Homo sapiens: one gene and its partners. The protein of the gene in region 3 purifies or fractionates together with the protein of the main gene of each other region. This does not show direct contact. Each region holds a gene or a part of one and is shown on either strand. Other genes may lie near its edges. The genes, in order: HS6ST1, UBR1 and ITM2B.

Region 1 (3,652 bases), on a different chromosome or scaffold from region 3:
ATATACTTGTCTTGGGGGAGTGTTGGGTCCAAACAAGATGACCCATTCCAAGTGCCTGCTAAGTGTGCAGGGGACAAGAGTCACCCTGCCAGCCTCTCTACATGCCCCCATGGCTTGTCACGCCTGTTCCTCATAGAGGCGGAATTCAGTCCCGCAAAATGCCACATGGGATGGTGATGGGCACCCAGAGAGGGTGCACCCCAGGCCCCTGGGAGCTGCACCCCTCTCTCAGCAGGGGTGAAACTCAGCCACCTGTGAGCAGGTGGCGACATGTGGGTGACTGGGCATGGCTGCTCCCAAGTGCCCTACATAGATGGGCCACCCCAAGGGTGTACTCATTGGGCAAGGCTTTGCAATAAAAACCATAAGATTAGCACTTTTCGGTGATTTAAGAGAATAAATTTAAAAAAAAATTCACAATAGGCTGGTGCGGTGGCTCACACCTGTCATCCCAGCACTTTGGCAGGCGAAGTCGGGCAGATCACCTGAGGTCCCGAGTTCGAGACTAGCCTGGCCAACATGGTGAAACCCCGTCTTTACTAAAAATATAAAAAAAATTAGCCAAGTGTAGTGACGGGCACCTGTAATCCCAGCTACGTGGGAGGCTGAGGTCGGACAATCGCTTGAAACTGGTAGGCAGAGGTTGCAGTGAGCTGAGATCGTGCCATCATTGTCCAGACTGCACCGGACAGAGTGAGACTCCATCTCAAAAAAAAAATTCACATGCTATTCAGTACCAATGAGTGTGCCACTGACATGGGTGCTCACAGACCACAGGTGGGAGCATACCAGGAGTGGGTGTTCTGAAGAGGAAGGTAACATTTGTACCAAGAGCAGTAAAGACATTCAGACTATTCAACTCAGAAATTCCACTCCTAGGAATCTCCAGAGGAAATCAGAGCTATGCAGAACATTTACACACAAGGAGCAGTCCTGCAGCAGTCCCCACAGAGTACAGAATGAGCAACCTGCGCACTCACCCACTGCCAACCAGCGGTGGCACACTCAGAGCGGAGCAGCTGCAGCCACTCAAATATTAAGTTTTTAATGACAACAGACAACATTTATGGTGAAATTTATATGATGGCTTCAATTACAGTGGAAAAACCATGCATGGGGAATGGATGATTTTCCTTTTCTCCCTCTGCCTCATACTTTCCTCCCACTCATCTACCAAACAATCATTATAACCACAACAAAGCGGGGTGTGAGAGCAAAAGCCTCCAACTCCCCGAAGGACGACAAGACCAGGCCCCTTCTCCTCCTCCCTCCTGGGCCCTGGAGGATGCCAGACCCAAGGTGGCCACTCCCCCGTGTGGCAGCCAGAACTCCTGCTGAGAAAGAAACCTGGATTCCCTGGCCCTAGGGACCAAGGTGGGCACTGCACTCTCTGGGACTGGGCTCTCTGATCCAGGAGCAGGAGTCCCCAGGCCCCAGTTTTATGCGTGAAGTGCCTAGGACAGGAAGCTGTGGCTTGAAGACCACCAGAGCAGCATGGCAGAAATGATCCCCCAAGCTAGAGGACCATCTAAAACGATCCTGTCACCCAACCATTCGTAAGTTTGCCTTATCATGTGTTTGCTTAAAAAAAAAAAAAAAGGATTTTTTATCTATTTTTAGTGAAAATCTAGGAGCATCTTGACCACAGATTCCCTTCTCATCTTAACCAAAGGCCTCTCTAGGCAATGTAGGCACAGTGACACCCCCAGCCTGGTCCCCAGGTCCTGTTCATTGGCCCCAGTCACATGCTCTGGGTAACATCTGTCCCCATCACAGCAGATGAGGGTTTCTCCCTTGATCTCAAAGAAGAAAGCGATTATGAAGGTAAGGTGGAAACTGTCGCATGCCACAGAAACGAAGGCTCTCATCCAAGCCCACCCCTACCTGGTCTGCCCCACCAAGGAGTCCCCAGGTTCTCAGGGAACACCATGACACTCAAGACTGACTCCGTGAACCTGAGTCACAGGGAAAGGGCAGGGACAGAGCCCAGATCCTGCAGAGTCCAGGAAAAAAAAATTCCCATGGTGCCAGCATGAGGGCAGTGCCAAGGTGGCACGGTGTCAGATGGGACAGCAGTCGAGGCGCCTAAGGCAACAGGGGAGCCTAGGAACAGAAAGCCAGGGAAGATTTCCTGGAGGAAGGGGCATCTGAGCAGACTGAAGGGAGGGGAGGAGCAGGCAGAAAAGTGGGAGAGGAGAGCAGGCACACCAGGTGGACGGCACACAGGTCCAGCACCAGGCGGATTTCTGGAGTCTGAGAAGGCTTCAGGATCACGGAGGGCAGGTCAAAGGCGAGGCTGCGGGCTCCTGCGCCATCCCTCCAGCAAGGAAGCACTGGTCTCTGCAGGGCAACGTCACAGAGGCTGCGAGCCCACTAAGGGCTCCAGAGAGGCCCTGGTGCAGAGAGGATGTGAGCTGGTCCCGGGTTCCCGGCCAAGGTGGCCCAGATGCCACACTTGGGCTCCAGATGCCCTCCGTGGCCCCAAATGAAGCCCACATGATTTCAGGGACATTTCCAGGGTGGCCCGGGCAAGACCTTGACCATGCCTGTTCTTGCGTTGCCTTCAGGCAGACGGGAAGAGGAAGGAGGGAGGTTCTGGCTCTGGAGCACCATCTGGACCCTCTGAGTGACAGCGGAGTGTGGGGTGCTGAGACATTCTAACCGAGTGGTCCCTGGAATGGCTGGCCATTTGGCTGCTGCCTGGGGATGGCCACACCTCTTTAAGGCCAGCCAGCAAACGTCCTTCCAGTGGAGTCTTACAAGCACCCTGGCTGATGTCGGCAGATGAGGCAGCCCCCATGGTGAACACAGGACTAAACAGGGACCCGCCAATGCTCTGCTCACTCTTGTTCCTTTCTACCAAGGCAGCCAAGCACTAACAGCCACTAGAAGTTCCAAACCATATTCCAGGAAGACATCAAAAACCTGTCCATCTCCATGGATGCCCAGCTCAGAGCAGCCCAGGCTGATACTGTGCAATGGGGAGGCTGGCAGCCGGGAAGAGCCCCACCTCTCTTACGCGCACCACAGGCCCACTGAGACCCTCCCAAACCGCAGCAGGGAATGGGAGGGGCTTGGTGGAGAGGTTCCAGGAGCCAGCCTTGGGCAGGGAGGCAGGCAGAGATAGAAGGAAAAGAGGGTCTCAGTCCCCAGAGAACACGGAGATGGCAGTGCAGAGCCAGAGTGAAGACATCGCAGGAGGGCCAGGGTGACACCTGAGTCTCCTGACACCAAGCCCACTTAACATGAGGCACCCCAGCAGGGATGGGCACTGCCCCTGATAGAGAGTTGCTGGGTCCCTGGGCAGATGGGGGAAGTGCATCCCAACCGCCACAGCAGAGCAGCTTAGCCCAGCTCCAGCCTGGGCCAGAAGACTCAGGTGGCGGGGCAGCGCTCAGCAGGTGGACCTCAGTGCAGCTTGGCCCTGCGAGCACAAAGGCAAGATTACCTTGGCCTCCTGATGAAGCTCATTAAAAAAGCAATCTACCTAGTGCCTGCAACAGAACTGAAGGGAGTGGAGGCGGAGAAGAGGGACTCGGAGGGTGGGGTGCTGTCACCTGCCCGGTAGCACAACCCACTTCCAGAGTGGGTGGCAGAGGGGGCCTCCTGACGGCCCTGGAAGCCCCTCCCAACCCTGGCGCATGCTGCTGAG
Region 2 (3,473 bases), on a different chromosome or scaffold from region 3:
AGGCTACTTAGCTAATAAAGCAGAAATGTACTCCTTGACCATTCATAAAATAGGTCAGGTATATTATGGCATTATGGGACCTCACTTAAATGGTCACTGAGGTTTATAACTTGAAGCAGCACTATTCTTTTTTGGTGGTTAGCTTGAATAGCTTTTTGGCTTCATATTGTTATCTAGCTTCAATTTATGATCTTTGCACAGTAGAGGTTAGGCCTGACGTATAACACTAGGCCCTAAAATTATATTTTGCTACTCAGAGATATTTGGTTGTAACTGTCCTTACGATACAAAAAACTGGCTGGTTATTAGCAAATAATTTAATAAAATAATTATACTTCAATTCTAGAGTTGCACAGTTTTTAACACTGTATAACAGCTAATCCAAAATGACTTAAGTCTGGCTGTTGCCAGTAACGGAGAACTGTGAGATCCTAATTCCTTGAGACATTCAAGTCTCTCAGCTGGTTGGGGATTTTTTTTGTTTTTGTTTTTGTTTTTTGGAGATGGAGTTTCGCTCTTTTTGCCCAGGCTGGAGTGCCGTGGTACGATCACGGCTCAGGGCAACCTCTGCCTTCCAGTTTCAAGCAATTCTCCTGCCTCAGCCTCCAGAGTAGCTGGGATTACAGGTGCCCGCCACGATACCTGGCTAATTGTTTTTGTATTTTTAGTAGAGACGGGGTTTCACAATGTTGGCCAGGCTAGTCTCGAACTCCTGACCTCGTGATCCGCCCGCCTCGGCCTCCCAAAGTGCTGGGATTACAGGCGTGAACCACCGCGGCCGCCTGGTTGGGGATTTTTAAACTGCCAAATTAATGTTAAAACTCTGCTTTGTACCCTTGTGGAACAACTAAGATTCTCAGTCATTAACTACTTTCACCACTCTGCTTTTCTCCCTAAACCTAAAGACAGGTCAAATGTCATCCCAATAAAAAGAAAGCTCTGTGTGATCCAAGGTCCCAAGCCCCATCTAATAAGTGTATTCTTTCTGAGCAATATTTCAAAGGAACAAAATTTCAGTGAACCAAAAAGAGTTTATTGTAAGGAGGTCTAATCTTTATCTATATGTACTTTTGAGATCACTGTCAGTCTCCTCATTTTCATAAGTCATCAGTAGGACCCCAGTTCCTACCACCAGGGAAGGATACAGAAAAGTTCAGGATTCTAAATATTTTGTTAATGCTCAGAAGGAAAGAAGGCTGATATAGCTGGCTAATAAAAAGTCTCAGTTGGGTGCAGTGGCTCATGCCTGTAATCCCAGCACTTTGGGAGTCCAAGGTGGGCAGATCAACTGAGGTCAGGAGTTCGAGACCAGTCTGGCCAACACAGTAAAACCCCGTCACTACTAAAAATACAAAAAAAATTAGCCGGGTGTGGTGGTGCATGTCTGTAGTCCCAGCTACTTGGGAGGCTGAGGCAGGAGAATCGCTTGAACCCTGGAGGTAGACGTTGCAGTGAGCCGAGATCCAGCCTGGGTGACAGAGTGAGAGACTGTCTCAAAAAACAAAGAAAAAAAAAGTTTCAAGTATTGCAATGGAAACAATATCTCTAAAACAAACTTCATCACTGGACACTACAAACTTATACTATCAGTGTCAATCCTTTTAAGTAGTTCTGAAGAAAGGTTGATTACAAACAATAGAACACTGAAACATTAAGATGGCTGGTGTCTTTAAAAATTTTGGGGAAACACTACCTTCAAATTTTGGAGAAGTTGTTGAAAATTATGTGCTACAAGACAGGGATGCCCTCTCTCACCACTCCTATTCAACATAGTGTTGGAAGTTCTGGCCAGGGCAATTAGGCAGGAGAAGGAAATAAAGGGTATTCAATTAGGAAAAGAGGAAGTCAAATTGTCCCTGTTTGCAGATGACATGATTGTATATCTAGAAAACCCCATTGTCTCAGCCCAAAATCTCCTTAAGCTGATAAGCAACTTCAGCAAAGTCTCAGGATACAAAATCAATGTACAAAAATCACCAGCATTCTTATACACCAATAACAGACAAACAGAGAGCCAAATCATGAGTGAACTTCCATTCACAATTGCTTCAAAGAGAATAAAATACTTAGGAATCCAACTTACAAGGGACGTTTAGGACCTCTTCAAGGAGAACTACAAACCACTGCTCAATGAAATAAAAGAGGATACAAACAAATGGAAGAACATTCCACGCTCATGGGTAGGAAGAATCAGTATCGTGAAAATGGCCATACTGCCCAAGGTAATTTATAGATTCAATGCCATCCCCATCAAGCTACCAATGACTTTCTTCACAGAATTGGAAAAAACTACTTTAAAGTTCATATGGAACCAAAAAAGAGCCTGCATTGCCAAGTCAATCCTAAGCCAAAAGAACAAAGCTGGAGGCATCACGCTACCTGACTTCAAACCATACTACAAGGCTACAGTAACCAAAACAGCATGGTACTGGTACCAAAACAGAGATATAGATCAATGGAACAGAACAGAGCCCTCAGAAATAATGCTGCATATCTACATCTGATCTTTGACAAACCTGAGAAAAACAAGCAATGGGGAAAGGATTCCCTATTTAATAAATGGTGCTGGGAAAACTGGCTAGCCATATGTAGAAAGCTGAAACTGGACCCCTTCCTTACACCTTATACAAAAATTAATTCAAGATGGATTAAAGACTTAAACGTTAGACCTAAAACCATAAAAACCCTAGAAGAAAACCTAGGCATTACCATTCAGGACATAGGCATGGGCAAGGACTTCATGTCTAAAACCCCAAAAGTAATGGCAACAAAAGCCAAAATTGACAAATAGGATCTAATTAAACTAAAGAGCTTCTGCACATCAAAAGAAACTACCATCAGAGTGAACAGGCAACCTACAAAATGGGAGAAAATTTTCGCAACCTACTCATCTGACAAAGAGCTAATATCCAGAATCCACAATGAACTCAAACAAATTTACAAGAAACAAACAAACAACCCCATCAAAAAGTGGGCAAAGGACATGAACAGACACTTCTCAAAAGAAGACATTTATGCAGCCAAAAAACACATGAAAAAATACTCACCATCACTGGCCATCAGAGAAATGCAAATCAAAACCACAATGAGATACCACCTCACACTAGTTAGAATGGCAATCATTAAAAAGTCAGGAAACAGGTGCTGGAGAGGATGTGGAGAAATAGGAACACTTTTACACTGTTGGTGGGACTGTAAACTAGTTCAACCATTGTGGAAGTCAGTGTGGCGATTCCTCAAGGATCTAGAACTAGAAATACCATTTGACCCAGCCATCCCATTACTGGGTATATAACCAAAGGACTATAAATCATGCTGCTATAAAGACACATGCACACGTATGTTTATTGCGGGACTATTCACAATAGCAAAGACTTGGAACCAACCCAAATGTCCAACAACGATAGACTGGATTAAGAAAATGTGGCACATATACACCATGGAATACTATGCAGCCATAAAAAAGGATGAGT
Region 3 (3,652 bases):
AACAGAAATGTAAACATATTAAATACAGTAGTCCCTCTTATCTGAGGTTGTGCTTCTCGAGTTTCAGTTACCTTTAGTTAACTACAGTCCACAAATACCTAGGTGAGTACAGCATAATAAAATATTTTGAGAAACCACCTTCACATAACTTTTATTATAGTATTTTGTTATAACTGTTTTATTATTATTGTCGTTAATCTATTACTGTGGCTAATTTGTAAATTAAATTTTAACATATGTATATATGTACACTAACAGGAAAAAACATAGTATATACAGGGTTTGGTACTATATGCAGTTTCAGACATCCACTGGGGGTCTTGGCATGTATCCCCCACGGATAAGGGGGGACTACTGTCCTATAAGATCATGTTAATTTTCTTAGATGTGATAATTATGTGGTTACGTAGGAGGACAACTCATTCTTGAGAGATAATAGCATAAGTACTTATGTCAAATGACAGAAAAAGAGATGAAGCAAATATGGCAATATTTGGAACAAAGTGGAGGATTTTGGGTATTCAACTTTTCTGCATTACATAAAAATGCTCAAAAGCTGGGGAAAAATATAGAATGAGAACTTAAAAACAGATTAACAAAATTATTGATTTTGAAAATGCTACCAAGAAACAGGAACATAAATTACCTCTTATCTAAGAAAATGTGGGAACATATAAAAAATATTAGTTTGCCAGCAAAGGAGGAACAGTCATGAGGTGGGCTTTAAGAGTAGGTAAGGCAAGGGGAAGGAGAGATAAGATATGAGAAGGCTGCATCAGCAGGGTCTGCTTCAGACATAGCAGAGCCCACCAAATGCTGACAGTTTATTAAACTAAACTCTAAATATAATAAATTAGCAAATATTGAAATTAAAACTACAAAAAGCATAAACTACAGAACCTGCATTCTTTCTACAATTCTGGACACTTGGCTCACCTTGTTAAAGTCATGAACAATGTTGGCAGGATCACTATCTGCAAACTCTGGGACAGGCACACTGATAAATTCAACTTCTTCTTCTTCAAAGATTTTAATATTTTCTTCAATTGTCTGGTAGAGAGCAGCTGGGGCATCTGCAGAGGGCTCATTTAAGATGACATCATCTTTGATGTACTTTATTCCACAGTAGTACACGTCATCTGGCTATAGAGAGTTTAAAGACTCATTTCAGCAATTCAGCATGAGACAGGTTTTTAAATAAGCATTACTTAAGCTGCCACCTCTATCTAAATAGCATTTTGCTTGCAAACTCTTGCTTTTAGATGACAAGTCAGACAGTTTAATTACAGAGTTAACATATTCTTTAAGATCAGGTTTTGAAGCACTGTAAAAGAACAGCTTCAGAAGAAAGGCAGCTGGTTTTCCCTTTACTTTTCCTGGTAGGTGAAAATAGAACATAAAAATAATTAGCTATCCAGTAACAAATAAATATAAAGAAACAACAGACCTACTCTACCTGTAAGCAGTTTTTATAGAAGAATACATTCCAAAACTAGTCAAGTTTTTCTGAAAGAATATATTAAAAAGTTTTGATATGGTCTACTAATTAAATGACTTTTTTCTTATTAGCCAAAAAAGGGATAATTTTTCTGAAATTTCTATATGCATATACGTAGTTCTACTTTTCCCTTTATATCACAATTCAGTGGAAAATATTAGATTACAGCAAATCTTTATGCTACTGTCTCACTTTTACAAAAAGAAAAAACAGTACATAAGGTCGGGTGCAGTAACTCATGCCTGTAATCCTAATACTTTGTGGGGAGGAGGCCTGAGACAGATGGACTGCTTGAGCCCAGGAGTTCAAGACCAGCCTGGGCAACATGGTGAGACCCTGTCTCCACAAAAAATAAAAAAATTAGCTGGGTATGGTGCCACGCACCTGTAGTCCTAGCTACTCCTGGGGAGGTTGAGGCGGGAGGATTGCCTGAGCCCAAGAGGTTGAGGCTACAGTGAGCTGTGATTGCACCACCGCACTCCAGCCTGGATGACAGAGTGAGACCCCATCTCAAAAAAAGCCAAACACACAGTACATGTACACGTGCGCGCACGCACACGCGCGCGCACACACACACACACACACACACACTACACACACTACACACACAATAAAGACTAAGGGTATACAAAATGTGAATGCACAGGGCCAGGCATGGTGTGTCACGCCTGTAATCCTAGCACTTTGGGAGGCCAAGGTGGGTGGATCGCCTGAGGTCAGGAGTTTGAGACCAGCCTGGCCAACATGATGAAACCCTGTCTCTACTAAAAGTACAAAAATTAGCCAGGAGTGGTGGCAGGTGCCTGTAATCTCAGCTACTTGGGAGGCTGAGGCAGGAGAATTGCCTGAACCCGGGAGACAGAGGGTGCAGTGAGCCGAGATCGCGCCATTGGACTCCAGTCTGGGCAACAAGAGAGAAACTCTGTCTCAAGAAAAAAAAAAAAGTTAATGCACCAAATGTTATCTCTGGAAAATGGAATTGCGATGATTTTTTCTATACTATATGTATTTCTTGTAAATAAAACTGTATTTAAAAAGATGACTAGTATTTTGGTAATGTCTATCAACATGTGATTGATTATCTTGAACAACACAGAAAATGAGCATGAAATTGAGAATGTTTCAAAATTAGTTAAATTATTTTAATAAGTCTAGTTGTCAACTGTTTCTCCAAATTTTGAAACAGCTGAAGTAGTCATAAAACCTTGAAAGTAATTTCCCCTTCAAAACTCCTAAAAAAAAAAATTGTGTATTATTGCCAAGAGAAATATATTACAAAATAGATTGTAAATTATAATCAATCACAAGGAAGACCTTTGTCTTAACCCACTGGGATTACTATTAAACACTCAAAGTTATAAACAACTTTCATCCTATGTTATTTCAATATCACTGCTGAAGTCACCCAGTTCTTTAGTGAAACCATGACTGGAAAAGAAGCAGAGACATGGTCTTACTGTATTCTGGGCCCAAGGGTACAGCAGGACCATAGGGGAGTCCAAGCTGACTATCAAGTTATGGCCTATCAACATGAAAACATTTGTGGCTGATGTATTTATTCAACTGGCAATTGATAATACTATTCCTCTCAACCCTTAATTATAGTAGGAAAATAAAGGTTAGTAAAATCACCCAATGACCTAAATAAATCCCTTAGTCACCAACATTTCAAGTTACTCTGCTTTTAGTGACTGTGTGTGATGGGCTCAGCAAACATATCATGGAGAGATGTTTAAACACAGCTTTAAAATAGAACTACCACTCTGGCTGAAGGTCACAGATAAAAAGTACAAGCTTAGCGCAAGTTGTAAACAATTTTGTAATGCACATCGGGAGAGGCAAAAAAAAAAAAAAATCAGAGACACAAAATAATTTTTCCACTTACTTGAAGTGCAAAATATTTGTACAAGTATGCTCCTCCTAGAATAACACCTGCAAGCATAAATGCTAGTCCAAAGCACATGCACCAACACCAGGCTCTTCTTTGGCCAACTGGTACCACATCATCTGGGTCCTAAAATATGAAAAAGACAGTTAAATATCTTATCTCCAGACAGAATAACAGAAGGCTCAGGACTAGAAAAACCTTAATGATTATCATTTTAATAAATGAAGACACAAAGACCAAAGGAGTTGTGTCTCTCATCAAAATCA

Evidence for each region.
Region 1: the proteins of ITM2B (region 3) and HS6ST1 purify together in Homo sapiens (affinity purification with mass spectrometry; 2 studies listed by BioGRID and IntAct, with this or other methods). This does not show direct contact.
Region 2: the proteins of ITM2B (region 3) and UBR1 purify together in Homo sapiens (affinity purification with mass spectrometry; 3 studies listed by BioGRID and IntAct, with this or other methods). This does not show direct contact.

The regions. Positions count from the first base shown.
Region 1 is NC_000002.12:128,312,357-128,316,008, forward strand, and holds part of HS6ST1 (heparan-sulfate 6-O-sulfotransferase 1), read right to left. Parts: intron 1-3,652. UniProt on the Homo sapiens protein: 6-O-sulfation enzyme which catalyzes the transfer of sulfate from 3'-phosphoadenosine 5'-phosphosulfate (PAPS) to position 6 of the N-sulfoglucosamine residue (GlcNS) of heparan sulfate.
Region 2 is NC_000015.10:42,945,642-42,949,114, forward strand, and holds part of UBR1 (E3 ubiquitin-protein ligase UBR1), read right to left. Parts: intron 1-3,473. UniProt on the Homo sapiens protein: E3 ubiquitin-protein ligase which is a component of the N-end rule pathway. Recognizes and binds proteins bearing specific N-terminal residues that are destabilizing according to the N-end rule, leading to their ubiquitination and subsequent degradation.
Region 3 is NC_000013.11:48,253,668-48,257,319, reverse strand, and holds part of ITM2B (integral membrane protein 2B), read right to left. Parts: intron 3,513-3,652; coding exon 3,384-3,512; intron 1,144-3,383; coding exon 937-1,143; intron 1-936. UniProt on the Homo sapiens protein: Plays a regulatory role in the processing of the amyloid-beta A4 precursor protein (APP) and acts as an inhibitor of the amyloid-beta peptide aggregation and fibrils deposition. Plays a role in the induction of neurite outgrowth.